Linked DNA regions of Homo sapiens. The protein of the gene in region 1 purifies or fractionates together with the protein of each later gene. This does not show direct contact. Each region holds a gene or a part of one and is shown on either strand. Other genes may lie near its edges.

The links.
Region 2: the proteins of TIAL1 (region 1) and TRO purify together in Homo sapiens (affinity purification with mass spectrometry; 2 studies listed by BioGRID and IntAct, with this or other methods). This does not show direct contact.

The regions. Positions count from the first base shown.
Region 1 is NC_000010.11:119,567,537-119,582,708, reverse strand, and holds the end of TIAL1 (nucleolysin TIAR), read left to right. Parts: intron 1-100; coding exon of another isoform or gene 101-151; coding exon 152-250; intron 251-485; coding exon 486-540; intron 541-699; coding exon 700-787; intron 788-1,862; exon of another isoform or gene 1,863-2,236; coding exon of another isoform or gene 2,237-2,238; intron 2,239-2,698; coding exon 2,699-2,774; intron 2,775-3,874; coding exon 3,875-3,983; intron 3,984-4,972; coding exon 4,973-5,068; intron 5,069-5,173; coding exon 5,174-5,258; intron 5,259-5,505; coding exon 5,506-5,629; exon of another isoform or gene 5,630-5,803; coding exon of another isoform or gene 5,804-5,821; exon of another isoform or gene 5,822-5,958; coding exon 5,959-6,098; intron 6,099-6,896; coding exon of another isoform or gene 6,897-6,917; coding exon 6,918-7,044; 3' UTR 7,045-9,244; downstream 9,245-15,172. UniProt on the Homo sapiens protein: RNA-binding protein involved in alternative pre-RNA splicing and in cytoplasmic stress granules formation. Shows a preference for uridine-rich RNAs.
Region 2 is NC_000023.11:54,923,666-54,938,837, reverse strand, and holds the end of TRO (trophinin), read right to left. Parts: coding exon 15,070-15,172; intron 14,388-15,069; coding exon 14,283-14,387; intron 14,169-14,282; coding exon 14,105-14,168; intron 13,850-14,104; coding exon 13,770-13,849; intron 13,247-13,769; coding exon 13,155-13,246; intron 12,429-13,154; coding exon 12,349-12,428; intron 12,256-12,348; coding exon 12,213-12,255; intron 11,796-12,212; coding exon 11,733-11,795; intron 11,534-11,732; exon of another isoform or gene 11,403-11,533; intron 11,172-11,402; coding exon 11,057-11,171; intron 10,236-11,056; coding exon 7,818-10,235; 3' UTR 7,807-7,817; intron 7,635-7,806; coding exon of another isoform or gene 7,500-7,634; 3' UTR 7,407-7,499; downstream 1-7,406. Other genes in the region: PFKFB1 (6-phosphofructo-2-kinase/fructose-2,6-bisphosphatase 1), read left to right, coding at 1,114-1,243, 3,829-3,891, 4,953-5,017, 5,376-5,435. UniProt on the Homo sapiens protein: Could be involved with bystin and tastin in a cell adhesion molecule complex that mediates an initial attachment of the blastocyst to uterine epithelial cells at the time of the embryo implantation. Directly responsible for homophilic cell adhesion.

The DNA.
Region 1 (15,172 bases):
AAATCTTATTTAAAAAGTGTTAGGCTTTCATAAGCTTATGCAGTCTCACCTTGTATATTCCCAGCTATCAGTAATGTTTTTTCCTGGATTTTCTTCTCAGCAACCCGATAGCAGAAGGGTCAACTCTTCTGTTGGATTTTCTGTTTTGCAGCATACAAGCAATGACCCATATTGCTTTGTGGAATTTTATGAACACAGAGATGCAGCTGCTGCATTAGCTGCTATGAATGGGAGAAAAATTTTGGGAAAGGTAAGATAATAGGATGATGGCACCTTATGAGTACATATATTTGCATGTCAAACTAGTTTGTATTCTTTCTAGGCAAATTTTTGAGCAGATATTCGGCTGCTGAGTGATGGTTTTGCTTTATTCAGCTTAGTGCTTTTACAAAAATAACCCTGCTTGATAAATGATTTAATAAGTGGTAAGTGTTGTAACTCATGACATGCCTAATAATTTTATTAAATATAATCTTTATTTTTAGGAGGTCAAAGTAAACTGGGCAACCACACCAAGTAGCCAGAAAAAAGATACTTCCAGTAAGTACTCCTGCTGCATTTTACTGTGGAAGAGTTCTGAAATTATCCAGGAGGCATTACCAGCTTAAATAGGTTTTTTTTTCCTCCTCTAGAGTTGCCTTAAAAAGGTTTTAGTGGCTGACTTCTTAAGTATTTGATTACCAAATGCTCTGATTTCAGATCACTTCCATGTGTTTGTTGGGGATTTGAGTCCAGAAATTACAACAGAAGATATCAAATCAGCATTTGCCCCCTTTGGTAAAATATCGTAAGTATCATAATCAGTACTACACTCAGTCATGATAGGCAGAATTGTATATGATTAACTTGTAATTGAATTAAGATTTTCTTTCTCTAGTTAGTATGGTTTTGTTTTGTTTCTTATTTTTCATTTATTTATTTTGGTTTGTTTTGAGTAGTGGATGTTGTTGAAAATGTTAATGTCATTTCAGTGTCTTGGGGTCTCGTTTTCATCTAATCCTGTGTATAATATGTTAAAAAAAATTTAAGTGATTCTGTTTGTTATCTTTGAAGCAGATGTTTGAATGGTAAAACTTATAAAGTCTAGCTTTTTGTCATATGTTTTCAAAATTTGATGGTTTAGGATAATGAGTTAATCAAAAGTAAATGTGATCTATACTGTGTAAGAGTTCAATAACTTTTATAGGAGGAATTTATAAATGGGGGAGAGTAGGTAAATCCTTGGATATATTGTGATTAAATTGGAAATGTTCATGTTTTATTATGATAAATGTGTTTTTGATATTTTAGCTATAAGTGAAAAGTACTATTATACTATTAAAATGTTTCAATGTATGAGTCATAAATGTGGGATTAATTAGATGTTTTTGTTAGTGATATTTGATTCTACTAGTTAAGAGGCAAATGTGGTTTGATTTTTAACAAATTTATGCTCAGATTTTACTGTTGTTACTTGGTAAAAAATATATTGGAAAACTAAAAATGGTTATGAATTGTAGAAAATGTTTATCATAATTTATCTTTCTGATTAAAATCAGTTTATTTTGTATATTTCCTGTAGATTTAAATTAAACATCTTAGTACTACTTTACAGGAAAGTGTTTCAACTAAGAACAACAATATTTTCTCTATACAATTTGTTGTTCTATAGATTTAATTTCTTTAAAAGATGTAATTCTTAACTTTCTGTTTTGATATTTGCTTTGCTTTTTAATCTAAATGTGGTAAGTAGTACTATTTTAAAAATCAATATAAAAATAATACAGGTTGCTGTTTTTCAATCTTTATTTATACCTGAGACCTGCAGTTTTTCTTAAGTCCAAGTCACAATTAAAAGTAATAGCATTCTGGTTATTTTGCAGAATTGCTCATAAGAATGGACAGGATCTTGAAGGCTAACTGCAAGGAACTGTGCACACTGGAACTCAGTTGTAGATTTTTTTTCTCATTTCTATTTATTCTTATTATACATTATTTATATATACATATTTTAGTATTTACATTTTAACATTCTATATTCAGTGGAGTTCTATATTTCCAATCATTTAACTTACTCACTAAAATTTCTGTGTAAATTTGTTGTTTTCGTACTGGTGTGCTTAGCATTGTTGTTAGTTTTTTATTCTCCTTTCTTAAATTTCTGAAAATGTCAATTTTTCAAAATTTACAGCTGCCCAAACTCCAAAATGATGGTAGAGAATTGACCAAGAAAAATAAAGAAATCTGTTAACAGGCCATGTATGCCTTTTTAATTCCTATTTTTTCCTCTTTTTCAATTTTTTAATATTTCATATATTTTGTATCACTAGGCAGAAGACATTTAACTATTTAGAGATTGCATGGTAAAGTAGTTAGTATTGTTACAGTAATTTATAGAATCAGTAAACCTTAGAGGACACTAGTAAATAGAATATTAGAAAGGGAAACTGTTGTTCCTATTAATCTTCAAATTTGAGCATTTAGTTTAGAAAGCACAGGCTATTTGATTAGGTTGCATGTTTATTACATGTTTTTGTCCTACTGCTTTTTTCTAACAGGTAAAGAAGCATTAGGGAGAGTTCAGGAATGGTTGTAGTTAATTAGGGCTAACTGGAATTTTATTTTAAAAATGCTCACAATACAGTGTGTGTGGTTCCTTTTAGTTTTTATTTTGAGGGTGGCTCTTACTTCCCTCATTTAGCTGTGCTTCTTTTCACAGGGATGCCCGGGTAGTTAAAGACATGGCAACTGGAAAATCCAAAGGCTATGGTTTTGTATCTTTTTATAACAAACTGGTACGTTCTTCCATCTCAATTTATATTTTTTAATACTAAATTTAGTCATTAGTTACTTAATGTATTGAATCTGAAACTTGAATATACTTGAATGTTAACTACAAACACAACTTTTATGTAATGTTATGTATGTTTTAATAATAGAGTATAATTTCATTCCTCTTTCATAAACTCGAAAATAAATAGCTAGAAAAAGAATGATTATACTATAAGGAAGATTATTAAAATTGTGTTTGTACATTGGTAAAGGTCAGATGGATTTAGAAGTAAAGCCCAAGTCTAGGACAGATGAGCTAATCTGAGAATTTAGAGGTTAGGTAAATTATATTCAGTTTTAACCATGAAAATCTCAGTTTTAACTCTACCTTTTAAATTATTATTCATACTCTTATATAACTGGGATGTGAATGACTACAACAAATTATGTAAATAAAAATTTAAGCAATTCATCTTGATTTTTGCATATATTCTTTGTAAAAGGGGTACCAAAGTAAGCATTTGCATTAACTGTAACATTAAATAATAAAGTGGGCTTTGATTTTAAAGCAGTTTCAATAACTTAAATCAATGTTTTGTTTTGTTTTGTTTTGTTTTTTTGAGATAGAGTCTCGCTCTGTTGCCCAGGCTGGAGTCCAGTGGTGCCATCTCAGCCCACTGCAACCTCCACCTCCCGGGTTCAAGCGATCGCGCTGCCTCAGCCTCCTGAGTAGCTGGGATTACAAGCATGTGCCACCACACCCAGCTCATTTTTATATTTTTGGTAGAGACATGGTTTCACTTGGGTTCGCCAGGCTAGTCTCAAACTTCTGATCTCAAGTGATCCTCCTGCCTTGGCCTCCCAAAGTGCTGGGATTACAGGTCATCTACATTTTATTGAAGTGGTAAGATAAAGGGCCAGAGTATTCTGTTTTTGCTTAGATTGAATCTCAAGTTCAAATCGTTTTCTAATTGGTAATAGTTCAGTTTCGTTTTGTTTAGGATATTTAGTAAATTCATCTACTGATTTGTATGGAACCAGCAGCGCCGATATTTTATTTCATCTTACAGAGTCTTATTTATCACTCTTTTCTTTGTGATTGTGCTTTCTTTTTTATCCATAGGATGCAGAAAATGCGATTGTGCATATGGGCGGTCAGTGGTTGGGTGGTCGTCAAATCCGAACCAATTGGGCCACTCGTAAACCACCTGCACCTAAAAGTACACAAGAAAGTAAGATATGTCCACTGTGTGTGTTAAAATTATATTCTTCACAAAATCATGTATCATGTATTCATCTAGTCTCAATTTCTAATTTATTTATGTAAGAGACAGGGTCTTGCTCTGTTGCCCAGGCTGGAGTGCGGTGGCATGATCTTAGCTCACTGTAGCCTGAAACTCCTGGGTATAAGTGATCCTTTCACCTCAGCCTCCTGAGTAACTGAGACTACAGGGACATGCCACCATGCCCAGCTAATTTGTAATTTTTTTATAGAGACAGGGTCTGGTTACGTTGTCCAGGCTGACGTAGTATTTAATTAGTGTTGCAAGACTCTAATTATTTCATTTTATATTTCATTATCTGAAAATAATTGGGCTGTGGTATAAGTATTTTTGGAGCTGTGAATCACCTGATTTTATAGATCAAGTCTGTGTCAAATCATAGCATCAAGAAAAATTATGTTTTCTCCTCCCATTGAGGCATATCTTTTTTTTTTTTTTTTTTTTTTTTTTGAGGTGGAGTCTCGCTCTGTCACCCAGGCTGGAGTACAGTGGTGCGATCTCAGTTCACTGCAACCTCCGCCTCGCAGGTTCAAGCGATTCTCCTGCCTCAGCCTCCTGAGTGGCTGGAATTACAGGCGTGTGCCACCACACCCAGCCAATTTTTGTATTTTTAGTAGAGACAGGGTTTCACCGTGTTGGTCAGGCTGGTCTCGAACTCGTGACCTCGTGATCCACCTGCCTCAGCCTCCCAAAGTGCTGGGATTACAGGCGTGAGCCACCGTGCCCTGCCTTAATTTTTGTATTTTTAGTAGAGACAGGATTTCGTCATGTTGGCCAGGCTGGTCTCGAACTCCTGACCTCAGGTGATCTGCCCACCTCAGCCTCCCAAAGTGCTGGGTGCCCGGCCTGAGGCATATCTTAATAGTATATAGTAATTAACAGAAGAGTTTCATAGTACAATATAACAGTCAACGTTTTTGTTTTGTTTCTGCATACAGACAACACTAAGCAGTTGAGATTTGAAGATGTAGTAAACCAGTCAAGTCCAAAAAATTGTACTGTGTACTGTGGAGGAATTGCGTCTGGGTTAACAGGTACAATGTTTGGTTTTCTAATCACCTCTGAGGAGCTTCATCACTGTTCATATGAATTTCATGATACACATCAGCCATGTTTTATTTGTATGTTTTGTTTTATAGATCAGCTTATGAGACAGACATTCTCACCATTTGGACAAATTATGGAAATAAGAGTTTTCCCAGAAAAGGGCTATTCATTTGTCAGGTAACACTCTACTTGAAATATCATTATTACTCTTATATTTGATTCATTCCTTTCACTTATGTTCTCCAGGGTATCAGTGTTTGTTATTTTAGTGCTTCTTTGCAGTATAGAAGTTTAAGCTACCTACCTAATGTACTTTAGAAAAAAAATACCAACTTGCAGGTGTAAACTGATGAGTTTCCATGTTATTTATTGTGTTAGGTTCTTAAAAAATAAAAGACAAAACCATATCATTTTTCTTTCTTAGATTTTCAACCCATGAAAGTGCAGCCCATGCCATTGTTTCGGTGAACGGTACTACGATTGAAGGACATGTGGTTAAATGCTATTGGGGTAAAGAATCTCCTGATATGACTAAAAACTTCCAACAGGTAATTCGATTTTTCATAGCATTCTTTAAGGTTTCCATCTTACATGTCACATAAAAGCTTTGGAAACTCTGTAAAATGAACAATAAAATAAAGCATATAGCTACTTTCAGTTGATTGTATTTCAAAATTGATTATTTGCGGTATTAACTGAATCTTAATACTTTCTTTTCACAGGTGTCACCACCCCAATAAACTTAGACAATGATAAATAACAGAGTCCTATTCACATAAGGGTGCTTACTTAGTTTTTCTCTTCCTTGTCTCCCACTCTTTCTTCATATACGGTGTTTCTTATGTGTTCCCTAAAACAATACTTTGCTTTTTCCTAGGTTGACTATAGTCAATGGGGCCAATGGAGCCAAGTGTATGGAAACCCACAACAGTATGGACAGTATATGGCAAATGGGTGGCAAGTACCGCCTTATGGAGTATACGGGCAACCATGGAATCAACAAGGATTTGGAGTAGAGTAAGTTGTTTGGGTTTTTCCAGTATAGAAACGTATGGTTCTGACAAAATAAATAAAAGTGTGTTTTCCTAGGGAGAATCTATTTTAATTATATACATTGAGCTATTTGGCATTATGAGCATTATAGAAACTAATCTAACAAAATATGATTTATGAGGCTAAGAAATTACTTCTCATTACCTAGGTGGAAAGGGGGGATTGGGGTAACATTTAGTGTGTCCTATGATCCCTGTAAGCAGTTGGTAGAATTTGATTTACATTTCTGATACACTTTTATTTATTTTTGCATGTAAAAGATCTTTGTCCAGATATATTCAAAAGTTTGATGGTTTTATGCCTATGTGGTATGTGTGAGAAATCTGAGGTTTGTGTGATACAAAGTAACTGGCCTTTTTTTTTTTTTTTTTTCTTTTGTTGATAGAGTGGTTTCCTCCTTTGTAATTCCCCTGCCCAGGGCCAGCCCATAGCTTTATTTTCAGATTTCTTCCTTTGAGACTGTTTCCAACATGAACTTGTTTTTAAAATTTCTTATGTAATAGATGATGTGTTGAATCATTCACAATTTTTAAAAAATTAGTTTGCAGATACTCCTCAGACATCAGTGTGTTAAGTTGTGGTTATCTTAAAAATATCAAAGACTAATACTGGAATATGTATTCTACACATATATCATTTATTTCTTTGATCTTTCTATTTGTTGTAGGTGTGTTGATTTCTGGTTTTCTATTCTGTGATTAGGCTCTGCTTGATTTTTGTGTAAATACATATGTGATTTTTTTTTTCTTGTGTTTGCTGAAGATTTTTTCTTTTTCTTCCAAGTCAATCACCTTCTGCTGCTTGGATGGGTGGATTTGGTGCTCAGCCTCCCCAAGGACAAGCTCCTCCCCCTGTAATACCTCCTCCTAACCAAGCCGGATATGGTATGGCAAGTTACCAAACACAGTGAGCCGGGACTCTAAAAAAAAATTGTAATTCATGATAGGCTTCGATTTCCTGTGACACTCTGAAGACATGAAAGTAGACATCGGAAAATGAAAATATTTATTTTAAAAATTGAAATGTTTGGAACCTTTAGCACAGATTTGCTTTGGTGAAGGACACGTGTCTTCTAGTTCTGCCTTTTTAAGTTTTTGTTCATGATGGATATGAACATGATTTTTCTTTATGTACAAAAACTAAAATAAAGTCAATAAAGACAATTCTGACTACAAATTTTGATATAATAGGAAAAATGGCTAATACATTTTGATTCTTAGATACTATTCCATTTTTATCTTGCTGTTCAGTATTTTAACTCACTGTGTTTTTAAAAGAGCAAAAAAGGGAGGATCGTGAAAACCTGGGAATCACATATAAGTTCATCCTGAATCCTGATACTCCCCTCCCCTTCCCTGAGGTGGACCACATTTGAAGTCAGCAGAGAAAAAGTGTGATATTCAGAAGAAATGCGTGATTTTGGAGTCGCTTTGGAGGAAATATTTTCTTTCTCTATGCCTAAAGAAACTGAAGCCAGACTGAAGTTTTGCACCCTAAAAAAGGAACAGCATTGTTTGAGTTACTTGAGCAAATGTTGGTGGTCCACGTTAAGACATATTTTTAAAACTTCCAAAAGTGTCGATTATTAAAATTGTAGTATTTTACATTTCATTTTGGGGGGAAATCCAAGTATGGTGTTTGTATTGAAGTCAGACAGTCATACTTGTGCTTTTACATGAAGTTTAAATGATACATATTGTAAATATTCAATAACTACAGTGTTTAAAAAGCATGCTTCAACATAGAAGTAGCAGCAATGTAATTATTTGAAGTAACACTTAACACACTCCGCTGCATTGAATGCAGTGGATTGATCAGAATGTTAAGACTGACATTTCCAAGGTTGGCTACTATGTAAAATTAAAATTACACAAATTGTGCAGAAAAAGCCTTAATTTTAATTTCATACAATCTTTGATGCATTAGTATGTTCTAAAATGTCATTGGGAATTAGTTTTTTGTTTTTGTTTTTTTTTTTTTTTTTTTTTGCTTTACATTACTTGGTATGTAAATACCTTGATTAAAACCTTGTAAACCAATTTCAAGGTTACTATAAGTTGTATAGTACAAGTGTTTTTTAAAAATCTTGGGGTGTTTTTAAAAATTAAGATATATTTTGCCCAAGAATTTTTTTAACAAGATTGCTAAAAACATCTTATTTAGACACTTCAATGTACCAATTTATAATTGGATATTCAGTTTAAATAGTACACAGAGTTGTGGCTTTTATTTTCAATTAATTTTTTTCCTTGTGGGCAGTGTGCATGGTATAATAAGCCTGAGCAGAGGCTTAAGTTGTATGTGTGCAGAGTTTGTAAAGGAATCAATTGGAAGATGCAGAAGACCGAGGTTTGCTTTCAAGGTATTTTTCAGGCTGTGTGGGTAAAATTTGCCTCAAATTTCTATCAAACAGGAATGTAAAATAGATAAAATCCTATGTATTTGAATTGTCAGAGCTAGGGAGTGCAAATGTTTTGGCAATGTATTCAAAATGCTGGCCTGGGCACCAAAGAGAAAATAGCCTTTTACAGTTACATAGTAAGATGCGATTAGTACCCACAAATTACTGTTTTCTAAACATTTGAAGTTTTACGATTAGCTTTAAAATAATGATTTTATAAATTGGTGGTCACAATAATTTTGGTATTACTTTCCTCCTTTTCCCACTTAGCAATATAGCCAAATGTATTCAACATAAAAATTCATAGGGTCTGAAATTCATAGCTGGGCCAAATTTTTTATGGCACCTTAGTTTTACCATAATGGTCATCTATTACACTCTTCTGTTATAAAATATACCCTTATTTCTTTTGTTTATAGTATCTTTGAGGAATGTTTTTGGAAAAGTTAATTTATATTTTATAGGGAGAACACTCAATAAATTATGTTAACTGTGCCCCCGAGTTAAAAATTTTATGAGTATATGTGAAACTTGAACAACTGAAGACTTTTTTTAATTGATAAAAATGCTTAGTATGCCTGTTTTGGTCTGCCAGTAAATTAAGTAGCTTATTGAGATAACTAACAGCTAAATATAGCTGTAGTGTTTCCTGACTGTATATTCTATGATTTAATAAAATTATCCAGACTAGTTATATTGCCACAGTAAACATGTGACTGAAGTGTCCTTCATCTTAATCTGAAAGAGGGCAAAATTTCATGATCAGTTAATGGAAGTTATTTCATATTAAGTGGTTTTTTTTTTTTTTTTTTTTTAGATGGAGTCTTGCTCTGTCGCCAGGCTGGAGTACATGTAGTGATGAGAACTTGGCTCACCGCAACCTCTGCTTCCCAGATTCAAGCGATTCTCCTGCCTCAGCCTCCTGAGTAGCTGGGATTACAGTCACGTGCCACCATGCCCAGCTAATTTTTTTGTGTTTTTAGTAGAGATGGGGGTTTCACCATGTTGGCCAGGATGGTCTCGATCTCCTCACCTCGTGATCCGCCCGCCTCAGTCTCCCAAAGTGCTGGGACTACAAGCGTGAGCCACGGTGTCTGGCTTTTTTTTTTTTTTTTTTTTGAGACGGAGTCTTGCCCTGTCGCCAGGCTGGAGTGCAGTGGTGCAATCTCGGCTCACCGCAACCTCCGCCTCCTGGGTTCAAGCTATTCTCCTGCCTCAGCCTCCCGAGTAGCTGGACTACAGATGCATGCCACCATGTCTAGTAAATTTTTGTATTTTTAGTAGAGACAGGGTTTCACCATGTTGGCCAGGATGGTCTCAATCTCCTGACCTCGTGATCCACCCACCTCGGCCTCCCAAGGTGCTGGGATTACAGGCGTGAGCCACTGCACCTGGCCATTAAGTGGTTTTTAAAATACAAAGCTACTTATCCAAATGAAATGTACCATTTAAAAACTACAACTGGGCCGGGCGCAGTGGCTCAGCCTGACCAACATGATGAAACCCTGTCTCCACTAAAAATACAAAATTAAGCGTGGTGGCCCGTGCCTGTAGTCTCAACTACTCAGGAGGCTGAGGCAGGAGAATCTCTTGAACCCAGGAGGCGGAGGTTGCCCTGAGCCAAGATTGTGCTATTGCACTCCACCCTGGGAAATAGAGCAAGACTCCGTCTCAAAAAAAAAAAAAGTGCAACTGTTGCCGGGCATGGTGGTTCACACCTGTAATCCCAGCACTTTGGGAAGCTGAGGCGGGTAGTGGATCACCTAAGGTCAGGAGTTTGAGACCAGCCCAGCCAACATGGTGAAACCCCATCTCTACTAAAAATAACAAAAAAATTAGCTGGGCGTGCTGGTGGGCGCTGGTAGTCCCAGTGACTTGGGAGGCTGAGGCAGGAGAATTGAACCTGGGAGGTGGAGGTTGCAGTGAGCTGAAAATGCGCCACTGCACTCCAGCCTGGGCGACAGAGCGAGACTCCATCTCAAAAAATAAATGAATTAATTAAAAGTATGGCTGTTGAGCTAACAGATGATTTTATAACATGACCCAATGCTATCTTGATCCAACTTAAGCCTAAGAATCGTTGCTCCCCACCCCGTTCATCAAAAACATCAGCAGAGACTTTTTGGGCATGCAAGGAAATGTTTTTTATTTCATAATTATTTTGAGATTTATTTTGGTGATGTGTTTCTGACTGACTGCCATATTCTTTGTTCTCATAATTTCTCTACTAGTATTTTCACTCCCAACCCCCGTGCCATTCCCACTTGATTTTTATGTCTGCTGGCAGTGAGAGGCTAAAATGGCCAACTTAAGCCAAAGCTGTAAACAACAGTTGAAGTAAGTCTTTCAATAAAGACTAGACTATATGATAAGTGGCTTTTTCTTATTGTCGTTTATTACATAATTATTCTACCAGGTTGCCATGAAATAAGCAACTGGGTTTTAAGTTTTCAGTAGTTATGTGGAGTATGTATGTAGTCAGGACCTATTTCCATGTTCTGTGTAAGTGTTAACAAGTCCATTAGCTTTGCTGAATTTAATCTCTGGATATGAAGGAGTAGAAATTTGCATCCTTCTAAAAATGCATGCTCTGTTTAATATTAATATATTAAAATTTATTAATTTGGAGTCCTCAGATACGGGAACTAATTTTACTGTCTAGGTTGCTCTTTGGTAGTATCTATGAGTAAAGATGATACTTGACAAAAATAATTTAATAAATGTTTTAGATACTTTACTAGTATGTCCAAATTAAATTTTCCCTATTAAAAGCATTTGAGCTTCTACTTAATACATTATAAACATTGACTTTGCAATTTTATTACGTATTGGAAAGATGCAAAACCTATTTCCTTTAGACTTTTACTAGTTTTTGTAAGCCTTCACTCTTAAGTGGTCCAAATGAGGGTTTTGCTTAAATGTGTATTCTACTATGTTTAGTAATTAAATATTCTCGTAATTGGCCAGGCACAGTGGCTCACACCTGTAATCCCAGCACTTTGGGAGGCTGGGGTGGGCAGATCACTTGAGGCCGGGAGTTCGATACCAGCCTGGCCAACATGGCAAAACCCCATCTCTACTAAAAATACACAAATTAGCCAGATGTGGTGGCGTGTGTCTGTGATCCCAGTTACTCAGGAGGCTAAGGCAGGAGAATCACTTGAAGCTGGGAGGTGGAGTTTGCAGTGTGCTGAGATTGTGTCACTACAATCCAGCCTGGGCAGCAGAGCAAGACTCTGTCTGAAAAATTAAAATATTCTAGTAATTATGTTTAAATAGGTTGCTGTAAATTAGATTGCCATCAATTCCATTTTCAAACAAGGAAATTATGTGAATATAACTTAAACTTTTTTTTTTTTTTTTGAGACAGAGTTTCGCTCTTGTTCCCCAGGCTGGAGTGCAATGGCACAATCTCAGCTCACTGCAACCTCCGCCTCCCGGGTTCAAGCGATTCTTCTGTCTCAGCCTCCTGAGTAGCTGGGATTACAGGCACCCGCCACTACGCCTGGCTAATTTTTGGTATTTTTAGTAGAAACGGGGTTTCACCATCTTGGCCAGGCTGGTCTTAAACTCCTGACCTCAGGTGATCCACCCGCCTCGGCCTCCCATAGTGCGGGGATTACAGGCGTGAGCCACCTTGCCCAGCCAACTTAAACATTTTATTGTTCCAGCTGGGCATGGTGTGACTCACGCCCGTGACCCCAGCACTTTGGGAGGTTGAGATGGGAGAATCACTTGAGCCCAAGAGTTTGAAGCTACAGTGAGCCATGATTGTGCCACTCCAGCCTGGCTGACAGAGTGTGAATCTCTGTCTCTAAAATACAATAAAAAAAAATTTAAATGCAATATTAGTATGAAACCTGGGCTCCTATTTTCTACTTACTGATTTTATTTTGAAAGATAGTGTAGAAAGGCCAGGTACTATAATTCATAAGCTACTTTGTGCAAATATTTCTTTTATGGGCAAAGATGACTTTTAGTTTTGGAATTGCCTAAATGTGGAAGAAATTTAATTTATATCTGGGAAATAGGGGTAGATGAAATCTATATAATTTGTTGTTTTTATTTTAAGGGGGATAAAAGGCACTGATAGCAATTGACTTTTTAATAGAATTAAGCTTTTGTGGCCGGGCGTGGTGGCTCACGCCTGTAATCCCAGCACTTTGAGAGGCCAAGGCGGGCGGATCACAAGGTCAGGAGATCGAGACCATCCTGCCTAACACGGTAAAACCCCATCTCTACTAAAAATACAAAAAATTAGCCAGGCGTGGTGGCAGGCGCCTGTAGTCCCAGCTACTCGGGAGGCTGAAGCAGGAGAATCCCTTGAACCGGGAGGCGGAGCTTGCAGTGAGCTGAGATCATGCCACTGCATTCCAGCCTGGGCAACAGAGCGAGACTCTGTCTCAAAAAAAAAAAAAAAAAAAGAATTAAGCTTTTGTTTGGGGGAAGAGAGAGACATGATCTACATAACTTTGATGGCTTGGTTTTTAAACAAGAATATCAGAGTAACAGCGGACAAAAGAAGTATGTTCAATAAATTATTTCCTTAACTTTCCAACTCAAAATACATATGCCGAATTTTGTCTGTTCCAATTTATTGCACTTTAAAGAATTCACTAACCATTGTTTCTCTGAGATGTTCCTCTGGGAGTGATCCACATCTAATAACGTCTTGGAGTCAGCTTGGAAAGTTTGCAAACATGAATCAAACTGAAGTGCTTTTGGATAGCGTTTGAGGAAAGCCAGGGCGACTGTATGCTGGAAAGGAATCTCAGGAGTGAGCTGTCCAGTTGTTGATCTTCCAGCGAGGCTTAGCTTGCCCGTGGGTCTCCTCTTTTCACTTTCCTTCCTTCTTGGGAACTGACAAGAGTTTTGCAAAAAGCCTGGTTGTCATGGTGCTATAGAATTACAGCATTGTTAAGGTAAACCAGATTTTGCTGTATAAAATCAGCAGATACCATAACTTGCCCAAGTGTAATTTTTTTTCCTGGTCCTTTATCTTTCTTCCTTACGTTTTGGTATACCAGCAAAGAGAAGTCTGAAACCATCTAGACAAAATAAAGCATGAAATACGTAGCCATATGCAACTGTGCATGTTCTGAGAATTATTGTATAAATTTCAGGTTTTCACATTCAGTTCACTTTACTGGTTACAAGTTAAGAATTGAGTTGTTCCATATTGGGTTTGTACGATTGCTTTTGCTCACAAAAATAAAGCTAATGTGTAAGTCTTAACAGCTTTTTAAAAAATGAGACTACACATTTAATCATCTTAGCTTGCTACTTTTTGAAGAGGACTAAACTTGAAAAACATTTTTAATTTTCTCTGGCTAGGTTATATTTTAGCAGATGGCATAACTCATACTTTGTTTAATAAGGGTTCAGATTGGGGAAAAAGTGACGAAGGATGATGAAGGAGGGATAAGTCCTTGATTCAGGAGCACATTAACCTGAGACTAGACAATTCTGGGCAGGTGTAGTAAGCCATGAATGGATAATCGGGTGGGGTGTTGATATGTAATATGTTCCTGGTTTAAGACTGTGTACACTTTATCAAGACTAGAAGACTTACCAGGAGACTTACCAGCCTATTGAAAATGAAATATTACCAACATGTTTGCTGATAGATGGCCCTGATAGTTTGTTTTCAATTTCCTTTAAGGTATGTTTTTATTTAGCAATATGGGTTCTACTTGTGTATTAGAATGTTGGGCAAATGGTCCTGTTTTACAATAGTTGCCTTTGAGCATTTTCAGTAAAATGACAGGGATTAGGATGTCCTTTAAAATCCACATTTCTTATACCCAGGGATATATTTTATTTTTTAAAAATGGATAACTTCATTCCTTGGTTGAAGCTCCCCGAAGGCAGGGACTTGGTTTGTTAACTACACAAATTCTAGTACTTGTAACAGTTCTTGGCATGTGGTAGGTGTTCAGTAAATGTTAAATACATTAATATGATAAGAGGAAATGAAAGTAAACATGTATTTTATTTAGTCTCCCTCTTGAAACCAGAACATTACCTCGTGTTCTATTTGAGTAGAACTTGATCAGAATTGGTGGGGTGCTTGTGAAAAGGTAGATTCTGAGACTCTGCAGTTGTGGGTGAAGGTAGTCTGAAATAAAATTAATTGGCCTGGCGGGGCGCCGGTGGCTCACGCCTGAAATCCCAGCACTTACGGAGGCCGAGGCAGGTGGATCACTTGAAGCCAGGAGTTCGATACCTGCCTGGCCAACATGGCACAACCGCATCTCTACTGAAGATACAAAAATTAGCTGAGCATAGTGGTGCATGCCTGTAGTCCCAGCTACTCGGGAGGCTGAGGCACGACAATTGCTTGAACCTGAGAGGCAGAGGTTGCAGTGAGCTGAGATTGTGCCACTGTACTTCAGCCTGAGCAACAGAGCGAGACTCTGTCTCAAAAAATAAATAAATAAATCGGGGCCGAGCGTGGTGGCTCACACCTGTAATTCCAGCACTTTGGGAGGCCGAGGTGGGTGGATCACCTGAGGTCAGGAGTTCGAGACCAGCCTGGCCAACATGGTGAAACCCCGTCTCTACTGAAAATACAAAAAACTAGCCAGGCATGATGGTGTATGCCTGTAATCCCAGCTACTCGGGAGACAGATGGAAG
Region 2 (15,172 bases), on another chromosome or scaffold:
TGTCTCATTGATCTGTCTAATGTTGACAGTGGGTGTTAAAGTCTCTCATTATTATTGTGTGGGAGTCTAAGTCTCTTTGTAGGTCACTCAGGACTTGCTTTATGAATCTGGGTGCTCCTGTATTGGGTGCATATATATTTAGGATAGTTAGCTCTCCTTGTTGAATTGATCCCTTTACCATTATGTAATGGCCTTGTCTCTTTTGATCTTTGTTGGTTTAAAGTCTGTTTTATCAGAGACTAGGATTGCAACCCCTGCCTTTTTTTGTTTTCCATTTGCTTGGTAGATCTTCCTCCATCCCTTTATTTTGAGCCTATGTGTGTCACTGCATGTGAGATGGGTTTCCTGAATACAGCACACTGATGGGTCTTGACTCTTTATCCAATTTGCCAGTCTGTATCTTTTAATTGGAGCATTTAGCCCATTTACATTTAAGGTTAATATTGTTATGTGTGAATTTGATACAGGAGGATTTTCACTTATTTCCCCTGAGAGCCAAGGAGAGACAGACACATTTTCTTGTTGTTTCTTTTTGCTTGTTAAGGAACTTTTTCTAGTTTGCACTTAGAGCGTAAAGATTTGGCCTTTGAGCATCTCAGATTTATGTGAGAGTCTCAGTCTTAACTCCCCACCTTGTGCACACCCAAGGCCTTGTCTTCTACTTCCGTACGGTTTTTAAAACTCAAAACTCTTAGTTACTATGATTGGCAAATGCCTGCAGGGCAGCTGTGGCTGCTACATCCACTTATCACTTGTTTTTTTCCGTTTTTCTCTATTTTGGGGCCCTATATTTATAAAATTTTCTTTATTTTTGTGAAAGGTCAGCAGTGCATTTAAGAAGACAATTTGCAGTGGGGAGTTGTATTGTTGTTATTGTTATTTAGTCCACTGTATTGATACATTTATTTGGTCCACTATATTGATAGCCCCCATTTAGCAGATAATGAAACTAAGACCCTAAGAAGGAAGTGAGTTGCCTAAGGTCATACTGGTGGGTCAACAATTGAACTGGCACTGGAACCAAATGTTCTTGATTCCTAGTTTAGAGTTCTTCCCCTCTGGGCAAATGTGCCTCATCTTCCTTTCTCACTCAAGTATCTCTCTTACGTTTAGTCCTATGAGGATCTGGTTCAGCGTCTGGAGCCAGTGATAATGGAGCTAGAACGACAGGAGAATGTACTGGTGATCTGCCACCAGGCTGTCATGCGGTGCCTCCTGGCCTATTTCCTGGATAAAAGTTCAGGTACTACCCTCATCTCTGCTTTGGGAATGTTTGATGGTATTTGAGACACTGACACCAACAATTAGATATCTATATCTTAGTAGTTAAGAGAAGAGTATCTAGAACAAGGATGCCTAGGTTCAGATTCTTTCTCTTTCACATACTAGCTGTACTGCCTTTCACAAATTTCTTTAACTTCTCTGGCCTCAGTGTCCTCATCTGTAAAATGGGGAGAATAATGATGAATTTTAAATAACATAAGTAAAAAGTTTAGAACAGTTCATGACACATTGTGTGGGCTATATATTAACTGCTATTATTAGTATAGTATTATTCTTAGCTAACATTTTCAAAGCCAACGTTAACAGTCTGCCTCAATCTGGAAAAGATGAGCTAGTATTTCTGTGAAGCATGCTACCATCAGGTGATAGTAGGGCCTTTCATAGCTTCATGATCCTGATTACAAGTTTCTGTCCTTGCTATAGGGGTAATTTCCCCAAGATAGTGATGTTTTCATTTTAAATTGTTTTTCAAATGATAATTTATTTTTAAAAAAATATGTAGGCATTGCATTTACAGAGTATTTACACACTGACTGCATAGGCTGAACTGCAAACTGGGGCAGCTGGCCTGGCAAAAAAAAAAAAACTGTTATATCACTTTCAGGCATGAGATTCCATTTCCAATGTGGATGCTGATGTGTTAGCATTTCCAGGATATTTTTAAGGTGTCTCAGAGCAATGCAAAATTATATTCAATGTCTACACTGTTTTACAGTCTTGGATCTTTTCTACGATGCTAGTTTGAAAATAAAGAACACTGTAATATGGAGTCATCCAGAATTGGAACCCAGGGCACTTGAGAACTTGACATTAAATAAGGAATTTCCTCTGCCTGGTCCTCAGTTTCCTCACTGGAAATAGGTGATAGGATGTGCGGTGGGGGTCCTTGCACTGGTAGATTTCTCTCTGTTCACATCTTTACTTTTCAGGGCAATGTTTTGAGACCATGAGGCAGGTGCTGTAACTCCCATTGTCCAGATGAGGAAATGGGAGACCCAGAAAGGTGAAGTGACTGGCACAAGGTCATGGGGCTCAGAGTGTGAGGGATAGACATTGATCCCAGGTACATGCCAGAGGACTTCCCGTCTCAGACATGTGTGGAGTGCTTTTTACACACAGGCTACCTGTCCTGGGAGCCAGACAGGGCAGCACTGGACAGATGTTCTCACCCCCCCACCCACCCCATTACTTAGGTGAATGCTGGAACAAGGCCCAGAGAGATGATGTGACTGAGAATGCAGACCCACAGAACATCAGGGCTGGGGCACCCTCAGAGTACATCTAGTCCAATCCTGTCCTGTGAAATGGGAACACTGAGGACCAGAGAGAGAAGAGCCCGGGCCAAGGTCATTAGTGGAGGCAGTGGCAGAGCTGGGTCAGAGATCTCAGGCAAGTCACTTCCCTTCTCCGAGTCTGTTTCCTCAAGTGTACAAGGAGGGTGTACAGTAGTACCTCAATCTAGCTTTAAGGGTGTCATGAGGTAGTGGGCAAAACACCCTTGGCCCAGGGCCTGATGATGACAAAAACAAGGAGGAGCAGCAGGATGGATGCCCAGGAAGGAAAAAAGCCAACCTAATGTCTCAGGAGGCTGGGAGGGCAGTGGCAGACCTCAGAAACCTAGGGTGGAACCTGCTGTTGAGGGAAGCCATGAGGGTCGGTGATCCTGCAAAATGAAGGGAAATGGGTAGCGTTATGTGCAGGTGGGCAGGAAAGTGGGTGTCAGGAGAGAGTGCCTAGCAGGTGGGTTTATCACCCCCAGGACACTGCAAGCCCCTGGATGGCAGGGGCAGTTGACAGTAGGGGCCAGTGCATGCATTCTGGCCTCACAGGGTCCCAGGTTCAAGGCCTTGCTCTGCTGCTTCCTGGCTGTGTGACTTGCGGAGAGCATTTTCCCTCTCAAGGCCTCAGTTGGCTGAGACCATGAAATGGGCTTACTGTCCCCACCTCTTGGGCTTGCCTGAGAAATGGAAACATAGACCCAGACAAGAATGCATATGAATATTCAGAACAACTTTATGCATAATGTCAATAACTGGAAACAAGTGAATGCACAAATGCTTGTCCATCACCAGGCCTGAGGCAGGGATGATCAGAGGGAGCGGGCCAGGCTGGGAGAAGGCTGTGGGAGCTGTCCACTGCCACAGCAGGGTCTCAAAAAACACTTGCTGACGTGAACTGTGGGCCTTTGTGGTGTGGGGTCTGCTGAAGGCCCCAGGCTTGGGGCGGGAGAGAAGCCTGCCTGGGTCTCATTTGTCCTGTGAGTGAGGTGGTGGCCGTCTCCAGGGTGGCCGGCCCAACCCTCCTGCAGGACACCCAGTCCAGTCTACCACCATTTTCCAAGGCATTCCTGCCTCCCTGCTCTCCTCCTCTCTTCCCAGGTGCTCTCAGTGCTGCCCCTGCAGGGTGTGGGGAGTGGGCCCCTGGTGAGGCCCCACCACGGCAAGGGGACATGGAATGGGGAGCATCCAGCAAGCCTGGGGGCCTGGGGAGGCTGTGTCCTGGCCAGCACCCTGCCTCTGAGGGCTGCTTCCTGTTCCTTTCTAGATGAGCTTCCATATCTCAAGTGCCCTCTGCACACAGTGCTCAAACTCACTCCTGTGGCTTATGGTAAGTACTCCCACCCTGATCAAAGGACAGGCATATAGAGGCTATGAGCATGGCCCTAGTGCCTACCATTTGCCCAGAAGAGTCCTGCAGGAGGTTTCCTGGGTGGGTGTCCTGCAGGAGGTTCCCTTAGTGGGTGGTGGGGGTGGGACTGATGGTAGTAGGATAACAGGGAAAGAGTAGGATGGTTTCTAAATCTGGGGCTGGCTCTGACTCTGTGTCTTTGCCAGAGCACCCAGCACAGAGCACCAAGCTGTGGAAGGGGGATTCCCCAAAGGGGACCAGAGGAAAATTATAGGTTAGGGCCGTATTGGAGAAAGAGCACAAAGACCAGCCTGGGCAGTTTAGGGTCTTTCTTGGGACATTAGCTATGAAAGGTTCATGAACAGGGGAGGGACAGAATCAAATCTATTCTGGGGTGCGAACAGGGCAGATGACCTACTGAAGCCTGGAGTAAGGTGCAGTCCACAGGGATGAAGCTAAGGGAGCTTCCACAGGCATTAGGCCCCCTCTGTCAGCCCCAAGCCCCAATGATGCACCCTCATCCGTCTTCAGGTTTCCTAAAACTCCCAGGTGAACTTCCATACTCCTGGTGTTGCCACAACCACATTGTCCTCCAGATAAACTTTGCCTGGCACTGATCGCCCAAGGCAGTGGCCCCAGGACTCTTCCACCTCTTCACCACCTAACACGGCTTGGAGGATCCGCAGAGCTACATCAATATTACATAGATGAGACTGCTGTCCTGCGGACCTCAAGAGCTGTGGGCAGCCAGAGTTCATCTCTCATCTCCATCCCCATTTACAAATGAGCACCTGAAGCTCAGCGAACTAAGACTGTTAGGGGCAGAGGTGACAGGATACCCTGTTGGCTGCCTCTTAGGCCTGGTGTCTTCCCCACACATCACATAGCTGTCTAAATTCTCCTCCATACAGGCGAGTCATGATCTGTACACAGTATGAAGCTGGGGGTGTGGCTGGTGATGGGGGAGGGGAGGTGATACCTCAGGGAAGACCTGTGCCTACCTTGGGGGCCTATGGACAGATGGATTGTTCTTTTCTAAGGCTGCAAAGTGGAATCCATCTACCTGAATGTGGAGGCCGTGAACACACACCGGGAGAAGCCTGAGGTAGGTGGGGGACTCCATGGCCCAAGCTGGCTGTGGACACAGCACATGGTGAAAGCACCTTATCCACAGAAAGGCTGCCCCAACCCCACCAAGCCTGGGTGTTTTGCACCAACAGATGGAGCAAACAGCACCCAGAAATGCAGAAACCACAACCCAGACACGAGGCACCATGGAGATGCAAGGCTGGGGCAATTCCCGCCTAAAAGGCCTCAGGCTGAGATTCCCCCAGGCCTACCTGAGGGTCAGGATCCGGGCCTGGCTGAAAGAGGGGAGCCTGGCAATGAAGACAAGAGGCAGGGGAGAGGTTGGGGCCCTGCACTGCTGTCTCCTTCCTATTAATCCTGCGCTCTCTCCTCAGAATGTGGACATCACCCGGGAACCTGAGGAAGCCCTGGATACTGTCCCAGCCCACTACTGAGCCCTTTCCAAGAAGTCAAACTGCCTGTGTCCTCATCGCCTTCCACCTTTAGGAAATGCTATCTTTGCTCTTCTCCTACTCTGCCTTGGCCTCACTGAGGCACCCCACTTCCAGTGAAGAAGTCCTCCGCAACTCCCAAACAAGCCTCGCTTGCTGGCCGCAACCAAGGAGCTATCTAGCTCTGGAGGAAACTTTCTTTCTTAATTCCTATTCTCTGACGAATAAAGACTTACTGCCTACAAGAGGAGAGGAGGAGGTCATGGCGAGGCTTTTCCAGTTGTTCTCAAGGTACTGACCCTAATCCTGACCCAGCTCTGCTGCTGTGAGGGCATGGAATGGGTGAGGATTTCCTGGAGGGAAAAGTTCTACAGTAGCACCTCCAAAGATGGGGGAGAAGATAGGTGCCTGTGAGTTCCTGTGGGCCTTGTTCCAGCAAGGTGGCTGTGGGCATGACACTTTCATCCTTATACTCAGGGAAGAATCTGGCACTTGAGCCAAGTGCTCCTTTCTTCTCCAACTCTTGCTGCCATCCTGAGTGATTTCACTGTTTATGTGAATGATCCAACCAATACTCTGGCCTCACAGTCCCCTGACCCCCTCAACTCCAGTGATCATCTTCTCCCCTTCAACCACCTACTCCATGGATTTTGGTATCATCTCCCTGGTCTGACTTCTTAAACGTAAGCATCCAACTGTCTGACCACTGCCCACCCACTACCCCAGTCCTTACAACTCTCTGTCATCCACTGAATCCCTAGCAGTGTGCCTCCATACAGTAGGCATATATGTAGTATTTTCTTCTTTTTTTTTGAGACAGGGTCTCACTCTGTCACCCAGGCTGAAGTGCAGTGGTGCAATCTCAGCTCACTGCAGCCTCAAACTCCTGGGCTTAAGCAATCCTCCCACCTCAGCCTCTCTCACAAGGAGCTGGGACCACAGGTGCACACCACCATGCCCGGCTAATTTTCAATTATTCTGTAGAGACGAAGTCTTACTATGTTATCCAGGCTGGTCTTGAACTCCTGGGCTCAAGCAATCCTCCCATCTTGGCCTCTCCCAAAGTCCTGGGATTACAGACATGAGCCACTGTGCCCAGCCCTGTAGTATTTTTTGAATGAACAATATTTGTTGCTGTACAGCATCAAGAGCAGAGTCCTTTGAATGCTCTATTGTCCCCCAATCTATCCTTAGTGTTCTGTCCCTAACTATGTTGGATACTATGGGCCATCTCTTCAGCCACTCTCCAGGCAGCTACCATAAGCCAGGTACCAGTGACCCAGTGGTAAAGAGACAGACTCATACACTTGCTGCCTTTGTTCCCTTGTCCTTCCATCACAACCACCCAGCAAGACCTAAACCTTGTATAATCCACCTCTCCTTTTGTTGTTGTTGTTGTCTACTACAGAAGTTGCTGATCCCTGCTTGAAGCAGATCTATATTTATCTGCATCCACAGCCACCCTTAAGTCTGTTCAAAGTCAGGGTTGTCTTCTCTGGTACCCTATTCCATCCCACCTTCTCAGGGATGGGCTACTTCAGTCAATTCCTGACTCTTCCATATCTATCTCCTGTTCCTGTTAGCTTTTGCCCCACAGTCTATACAATATGCCCAAGTTTTCCTCTCCTATCCCAATTAAACCCTCCCTTGTTCTTATGTCCACCCCTAGTGACCTCTGCCCTTCCCTCCATTCTTACACCAGTGATTCAAAATCAATCTGTACTTACTGTCCAGAAGCCTCTCCGTTTGCCTTCTGCTCCAGGCTTTCCCTCTCCATATCTTTCCTCAACCTGTTATCCTCTTGCCTGCCATGCTTTCCCCAGGCCTCTATCCTGCTGAAATCATATTTGCCTTTGAGCCAAAAGCTGGAGACCCACATTCTCCAAAGAGCTATGCTGATCTCCAGCTCTTCTACGAACCCAAGATGCCACTCCACAACTACCTAAGCACATTAAAAGACAGAAAAAACTCCAATTCATTTTGCAAATTTAATGTAACTCTGATACCAAAATATGACAGCACACAGAAAGCAAACAATAAAGCAGGAACAGCAAACAGATTTTTCCATCACATGACACCCTCAGCTGATTGGCCATAACTGCCTTGACTGCTGTGTGGACAAAGATTCCAAGGATGTACTTTGGCTCCATGGGAAGGACTACTGCAATTTATTAGCGGTATCTGTAAACATGGGGAATAAATCTGAAAACAAAACAAATAGGAACACATTTTAGCACCAAATACACTGTCTTCTCATAATTCCTTAATTGCCCTCACCTTTCCACCCTGCTGTCCTGCCTTAGTGTTTCTTACAACATCTCCCAGCTCTTGTACCCATCCCTGTGGGTCCTGGCTATGGAAATATTGCAGTTACCTGAAACCTCACTAGCCATACGAGAAGCCACAGGCACCAAGACTGGCGGCTCCACTGCCAAAGCCAGCACTGGTGCTCGGTCCACCACCAAAGCCAGCACCAGTGTTTGGTCCACCGCCGAAGCCAGCTCCTGTGCTCGGTCCACCGCTGAAGCCACTGGTGCTTGGTCCACTGCAGAAGCCAACACCAGTGCTTGGTCCACCGCTGAAGCCAACAATAGAACTGGGTCCACTACTGAAGCCCGTGCTGGTGCTGGGTTCGCCAGTAAAGCCAGTGCTGGTGTTGGAACCACTGCCAAAGCCAATGATGGTACTCAGTCCTCTGTCGAAGCTGGCATTAGGCCTACTGCCAAAGCCATCGCTGGTGCTGAGGCCACCACTAAAGCCAGCACTGGTGCCAAGTGTGCTGCCGAAACTAGCATTGGTGCCCAGTCCACCACCAAAGCCATCACTAGTGACCAGTCCACCACCAAAGCCAGCACTGGTGCCCAGTCCGCCACTGAAGCCAGCACTGGTGCCCAGTCCACCACCAAAACCAGTGCTGGTGCCTGGTCCTCCACCGAAGCCAGCGCTGGTACCTAGCCCACCATCAAAGCCAGAACTTGTGCTTAGGCCACCACTGAAGCCAGCACTGGTGCCTAGGCCACCACCAAAGCCAGCACTGGTGTTCAGTCCACCACCAAATCCAGCATTGGTGCTTAACCCATTGCCAAAGCTGAAACCGGTACTGGTGCTGGGTCCATCACAAAAACTAGGGCTGGTAGCACCACTAAAGCAGGCACTGGTGCTAGGAGGGCCACCAAAGCATAGGTTAGTATTAGATGCACTGCCAAAGCAGAGGCTGGTGCTGGGAGCTCCACCAAAACAGAGGCTGGTGCCATGAGCACCACCAAAGCTGACACTGGTGCTGGGAGCAGCACCAAAGCCAATGCTGTTGCTGGGAGTACCACCGAAGTCAGCAGCGGTACTAAGTGCCCCACCGAAGCCAGCACTGGTGCTAAATGCACCGCCAAAGCCAGGGTTGGTGATTGGTGCACCACTGAAGCAAGCACTGGTGCTGACAGCACCACTGAAGCTGGCACTGGTGCTGACGGCACAGCCAAAGCTGGCATTGGTGTTGAGTGCACCACCAAAGCCAGCACTGGTGCTGGGAGAGCCACCAAAACAGACGCTGGTGCTTAGTGTACCACCAAAGTCAGTGTTGGTGCTGACAGCACCACCATAACCAGCATTGGTGTTGAGTGCACTGCCAAAGCTGACACTGGTGCCAGGAGAGCCACCAAAGCAGACACTGGTGCTTAGTGTACCGCCAAAGTCAGCACTGGTGCTCATAGCACCACCAAAACCAGTACTGGTGTTGAGCACACTGCCAAAGCTGGCACTGGTGTTGAGAGCACCACCAAAGCCAGCACCAGTGCTGGGAGAGCCATCAAAGCAGATGCTGGTACTTAGTGTACCACCAAAATTGGCACTGGTGCTGGAAGAGCCACCAAAGGAGACACTGGTGCTAAGTGTGCCTCCAAAGCCAGTGCTGGTGCAGGGAGAGCCACCGAAGCAGATACTGGTACTGAGTGTACCACCAAAGCTACCACTGGAGCTGGGAGAGCCACCAAAACAGACACTGGTGCTGAGTATGCCTCCAAAGCCAGTGCTGGTGCTAAGCGCACTACTGAAGACTGTGCTCGTTGTGGGTGCACTGCCAAAGCTGGTGCTAGTGCTGAGTACACCACTAAAGCCAGCCGTGGTGCTGAGTGTGCCTCCAAAGCCAGAGCTGGCTCCACCACTGAAAGTGGCACTGGTGCTGAGTGGGCCACTAAAACTAGAGCTGACTCCACCACTAAAGCTGGCACTGGTACAAGGCATGCCACCAAAGCTAATGCTGGCTTCACTGCTGAAACTAGTGCTGGTGCTGTGTGCACAACCAAAGCTAATGCTGGCTGCGCTGCTGAAGCTGGAGCTAGTGCTCAGTGTACCACCAAAGCTAATGCTGGCTGTATTGCTGAAGCTGGCACTGGTGCTGGGTGCAACACCAAAGGTAATGCCAGGTCCACCACTGAAGCCACCACTGGAGCTGGGTGCACCATTGAAGCTAATACTAGCACCATCGCTGAAGCCAGCCCTGGTACTAGCTCCTCTGCTGAAGTTGACGTTGGTGCTGGCATCTGCATTTTCTTGGGCTCTGGCCTCAATTTCAAATGAAAATCTGCTCCAGGCCTGAGCATCATCGCCTAACTCTTCCCTTGTTAGGCAGTCGATATCCATGTCATCCCAATTCCAGGGCCCAGCCACAGCTTCCTCTCCAATCCCCATTTGGGCTCTTGCCTCAGCCCTGGCTTCAGCCTCAGCCACAGCCACAGCTGCAGCTTGGACTTCCATCTCCACTGCCTCGCGGTACTGCACAGCCCAGTCCTTGGGGTCTTTCTTCTGCACCTGAAATGGGGATGATAATCATAATAAGAAAACAACCCTAGTAATCATGTATTAACCTACGGGCTTTGTATTAAACTAGTAGCAATACTTTTTTAAACTTCTCAGTTATTGGGGCTCTATCATGGGTCAGTTCTGAACTCCAGTTTCAGCTCTGCTGACTTACGTGCTATATGACCTTGGACAAGTTACTTAACCTCACTTAGCCTAAGTGTCTTTATAATTACAGGAAATGATAGAGCGTAAATATGTTATGAACTGAAGGGTTGTGCCCGCCCCCAAATTCGTATGTTGAATCCCTAACACCCAGTGTGATTGTACTTGGAGATAGGGCCTTTATGGAGATAATTAAGGTTAAATGAGGCCATAAGGGTGGGGTCCTGATCAACAGGATTAGTGTCCTTATAAGAAGAGACACCAGAAAGCTTGCTCTCTTCTCTCTCACACACAAAGCCATGTGAGGACACAGCAAGAAGGCAGCCATCTGCAAGCCAGGAAGAGAGCCTTCAACAGGAACTGACCCTCGTGGACCCTGACCTAGGATTCTCGCCCTCAAGAACTATGAGAAAATAAATTTGTTTTTTAATCCACCCAGTCTATGGTATTTTGTTATGGCAGCCCATGCTGATTAATACAAAGTATGAAGAATGAATGAGATGATGTAAACTATATATCTAGCAGCACCCTGGGACATAAAGGAGGCTCCACATGTTTATATATGAGCTGCAGGCTGCTCTGTACCTGCCCATCCCTGTGCATTGCCTGCCCCAGCCAAGGGTATCCCATTGCCTTAATATGCCAAGCTCGGGCAGCTCTCCTCTTACCCTGCATGCAAACTTGAGGACTTTCATCTTGCTAGTCTCGTGGTAGGAGCGCAAGCCCCAGAAGAACTCATATTCAGGTGGTCTGCTGTTAGGGACCCTCTTGTACTCCAGGTACCTTGGAAAAAGGAAATGAAACTTGTTTCTAACCAAGCAACCCTGCTGTCTAAGCACTAGACACCAGGTGGCAACCTCCTCCAAACAAATACAAACAGCCCCTGGAGAGGGATTTCTAAGACCCTCCAGCCCCAGACTCACTACCAAACACAGTTTATGGTCTTGGCCTCCAATACTGAGCCATTTCCCACTGGCCCTGTGCAAAGCAGTCCCTTGGGCTTCTCCAGGGGAGACATGTATAGGGCATGATGTCACAGGAAGGCCAAAGTATCATGCCACCTGTGAGGAGTAAGCCCAGATTCCTGTTGGGTGTGTTGTAAACAGAGGAGCCATTCTTAAGGCCCTCTGCTCTGAGCGCACCCCACTGCAAGGGCCTTGTGTTGAGTCTGGCCCAGTCCTGGAAAGGTCTGCCCATGGGAATTTTAGACAGTATCAGTTCTAGGACACAGGATGCCCATCCCTCTAAAGCTAGTATAAGAAAGGCACTGACTAAGCACTTTCTGAACCAGATCAGTATACCCAGAACACTTCAGGGCCAGACAAAGCCCCAAACACCACTTACTTCTGCTTCACAAACTCGTCTGTGATGAGCTTCCTCACTTCCCCAAAGAGTGAATGCCTCACCCTGACAATGGGAAAAATAACCCATGAACACAGATCAGAACTGCCCAGATGAGGGCAGAGGCATTTCCCAACATGGAAGAGACCTCTCTAGCACATGGGGCAGTCTCAATGAAGTGAAGAAAGTAATGAGCACATGGCCACTAGAAGCAAGCAGTTAAGACCAGATGCCTCTTTGTCAGGGATCCCTGAAGGTCTATCTAACATCTCAGCTTAGAACAGACAGAGGACATTAAGGAGAGAGACAGCAGAGAGTTCAGGACCATTTGCCCGTCATCCACCCAGGTCAGAACCCTGGGCCCTCTACCCAGTCCAGCACCCCACCCGCTCCACCAGACCACCAGACTGATGCAATCCTAGGACCATCCTCTCTTGCCAAAGGACAACACGGACAGCAAGCGCTGAGAGAGCCCAGTCATACCCAGGGCGCAGCCCCAACTTGCGCAGCACCTCCCAGATGACAGCTGTGAGGGGAGGCAAGAGGAGACAGGGACAGAAATTGAACACATGGAATCCAGACCATGGCCGCCCATTCAGCTGCATGCCCAGCCACTCACCCTCACTGGCCTTGTTGCCATTCATAAAAATGACACTCAGAATCACCATGAGGAGACCCAGCTTGGGTGTGTCCTTGGTCCTAAGGGAATAACAGGACAGAAAGAAGGTTTATGTTTCAACAGGACAGAAAGAAGGTTTATGTTTCAGCAGCCATCCGCAAAAGATACACCAGCCAGCTCACCAGGCTAACCTCTCCCAGATTCCTCAGATACAGAATTCTGCCCAGTCTCTGCTTCCAGCTCTATGCCACCCTGGGCAAGGCACTTAGACCTTGCAAGCCTTGGTCTATTATTCAGTAAAATGGGAAAATCATATTCTCCCTTCCTCAGGTTGCCAAGAAGATGGAAGAATGGCTGTCAACCTGGTACAACACAAGCACTCAGTCAATGTGAGTCCCTTCTTTCTCTCCCAGAACCTTCAGCCCCACTGACACTCTTGCGCTTCATGCATACTGATCCAGCCACACCAGGAAGCCCTCCTTGAGAACCACTCTGTCAAAGCCAGGCCAGGCACTCCATCGGAAGAGGCAAGCAATGACAGGCCTGCTTTCCTGGGAAGCTTCTACAGAGACAGCAAACCTGACAGCAGGAATGTCCCACCCTAGGCTCCTATACCCTTCAGTCAATCATAATCAGGTGCCACTACTGTGAGCAGGGCTCCAACTATGTGCAGGTGCTGAGACAGGGCTTTTGAGACCCTGTTTTTCCTGACTCTCTAAGAGGATGGGGGAAGTAGGACAAAGAAGGGGTAGCAGCACAGATAAAAGCAGAAGCTTCCTTCCCACTCCAGCCCTTTCCCAGCTTACGTTCCCAGTATGCCTGCAGAGGATTCCTGAGTGCTGATGAGAATATACAAGCTACTTTGCTTATCAATTTCTTTCAGATTGACTCGAAACATCTGCCAAGTAAAAGAATAGCCTGTGAGATCACAAAATTCAGCTTAGGTATCAGTGAACTTTCCGGGCATCCTAAAACTCCCAGTGTACTTAGGGGGTCTGCATGTGTAAGAAGTCAGTGAGATAATGCACATAAAGCACATAGCCAAGTGCCTGGCACCCAGTAAACACACAGCAAATGTACTATTGTCATCAACATCATCTTTGTGATGAGCAGGAATCTAGGGAGACAGAAAATGGGGATACAAGGGAGAGGTGAGATCTGAAATACATGCAGAATATGTCCAACTATGAATAGAAGCTGAGACTAATTTGAGTGGCTTCTGTCCTAGCCATGTTTTCATCACTGACATGCTGTGTGACCCATGGCAAATCTACACCTCTCCCTAGGCCACTGTCTGCCCATTCACACAGTAATGGGGCTGGATTAGCATGTTTCTGTGATTCTCTCCAAAAGGGACATGTATGTCTTTGCTCGATTCAAAGCTTCCCCATTGCGCCCATCCGCCAGCACTGCCCCTTCACCTTCTCCAGAGTGTAGCTTGCTCGTTCAATGATTTCTGGGAAATATTCATCATATTCTTGGATGACATCCCTCAGCATGTCTGTAGAAAAGGAGAGGTGAGAGTAGCTGAGCTTAGCAGGGGCCACAGAGCTGCAGCCCTTTTGCCAGTCCTGTTGGGTCAGTGCAATCAGAGACCTGAAGTGAGTTAATGGGAGATGCCAGCCATGGCAGAGTGCAAGGAGGGCAGGTGTGGAGATATGACAGAACAAAGAGGCCATAAAGTGTTACTCCCAGACTATGGGAGGAGAGGGGAGTGGAGAGGAGAGCTCAAGGAGGAGGGTTGGTAGGACACTACCTGAGCGTTTGATGGGGATCTTTGTCTGGTCCTTAACCAACAGGTATTTCACCAACTTATTAGCCTGGGAGGAGAGGAATAGATGGAGAGATCTTAACATGCTTGCAGAAAACTTGGAAGGAGGCAGAGAAGAGGGCAAGTGAAGAAGAGAAGAGACTGGACAGCATTGGATTCTTACCCTTTCTTGTAAAATGGCCACATCTCGCGGTGGTGCAGGCCTCCGGCCCCATGGGATCCGCCTGTAATTACTGCCACTTCTCTCATCCCCATTCAGATGCTTGGACTTCATCATCAGAAAGAAGGAAGGTCCAGAGTCACCAGGTGAAAGAGATGGCTCTGTCTCCTCACCTTGCCTGCTCCAGACAGAAAGTCCCTCTAACCCCCTCCCTCAGCCTTGCTGTAGTGGAGCCTGATCCTGACCTTGCCATTGGCCACCCTGAGTCCTGAGCTTATCTTTCACTGTCTTCCAGGAAGGAGTTTCGTTCCTCTGCCAGGCCAGGAACAACTCAAGATAAGAGCCTAAGGGTCTTTCTCTTCCTCTGGCTACCACCAATTATGCTGGCTGGTACCTCTTGGACAAGTCACTTCATTTCTCTGAGACTCAGTTTTCTTAAGTGTAAAACTGGGACCTATGATCCCTTGTTGGTAAGAGTTACTTTCAAGACATTCAGACATACCCTGTGTAACTGTACCCAACACAAAGCCTGGCACGTGGTAACTACTATTTAAATACAAGTAGTATTACATACAGGTTGTAGCTGAGTGTATGGATGTCTTATTTCCTCACCAATCTGTGAACTGCTAGGGAGCAGAAACTATATCACCTTCTTCTCAGCATCTTCCACAGCCTATCTGAACACAGGGACTAGCTCAAAGTAAAACTTTTATAGAAGAAATGAACAAACTAGAAGGGTAGAAATGGAAAAGAAGCACAAAGTTAAGGATGGCAATGTCAGAGATCTCACCTTTCGGTTTCTTTTGCCCCGGGTCCTGGTTGTGGGCTCCAGGCTCAACTGAGCCAGATAGTCATCTGCCAGGGCCTGGACAGCAGCAGCAACCTGAGTCTCA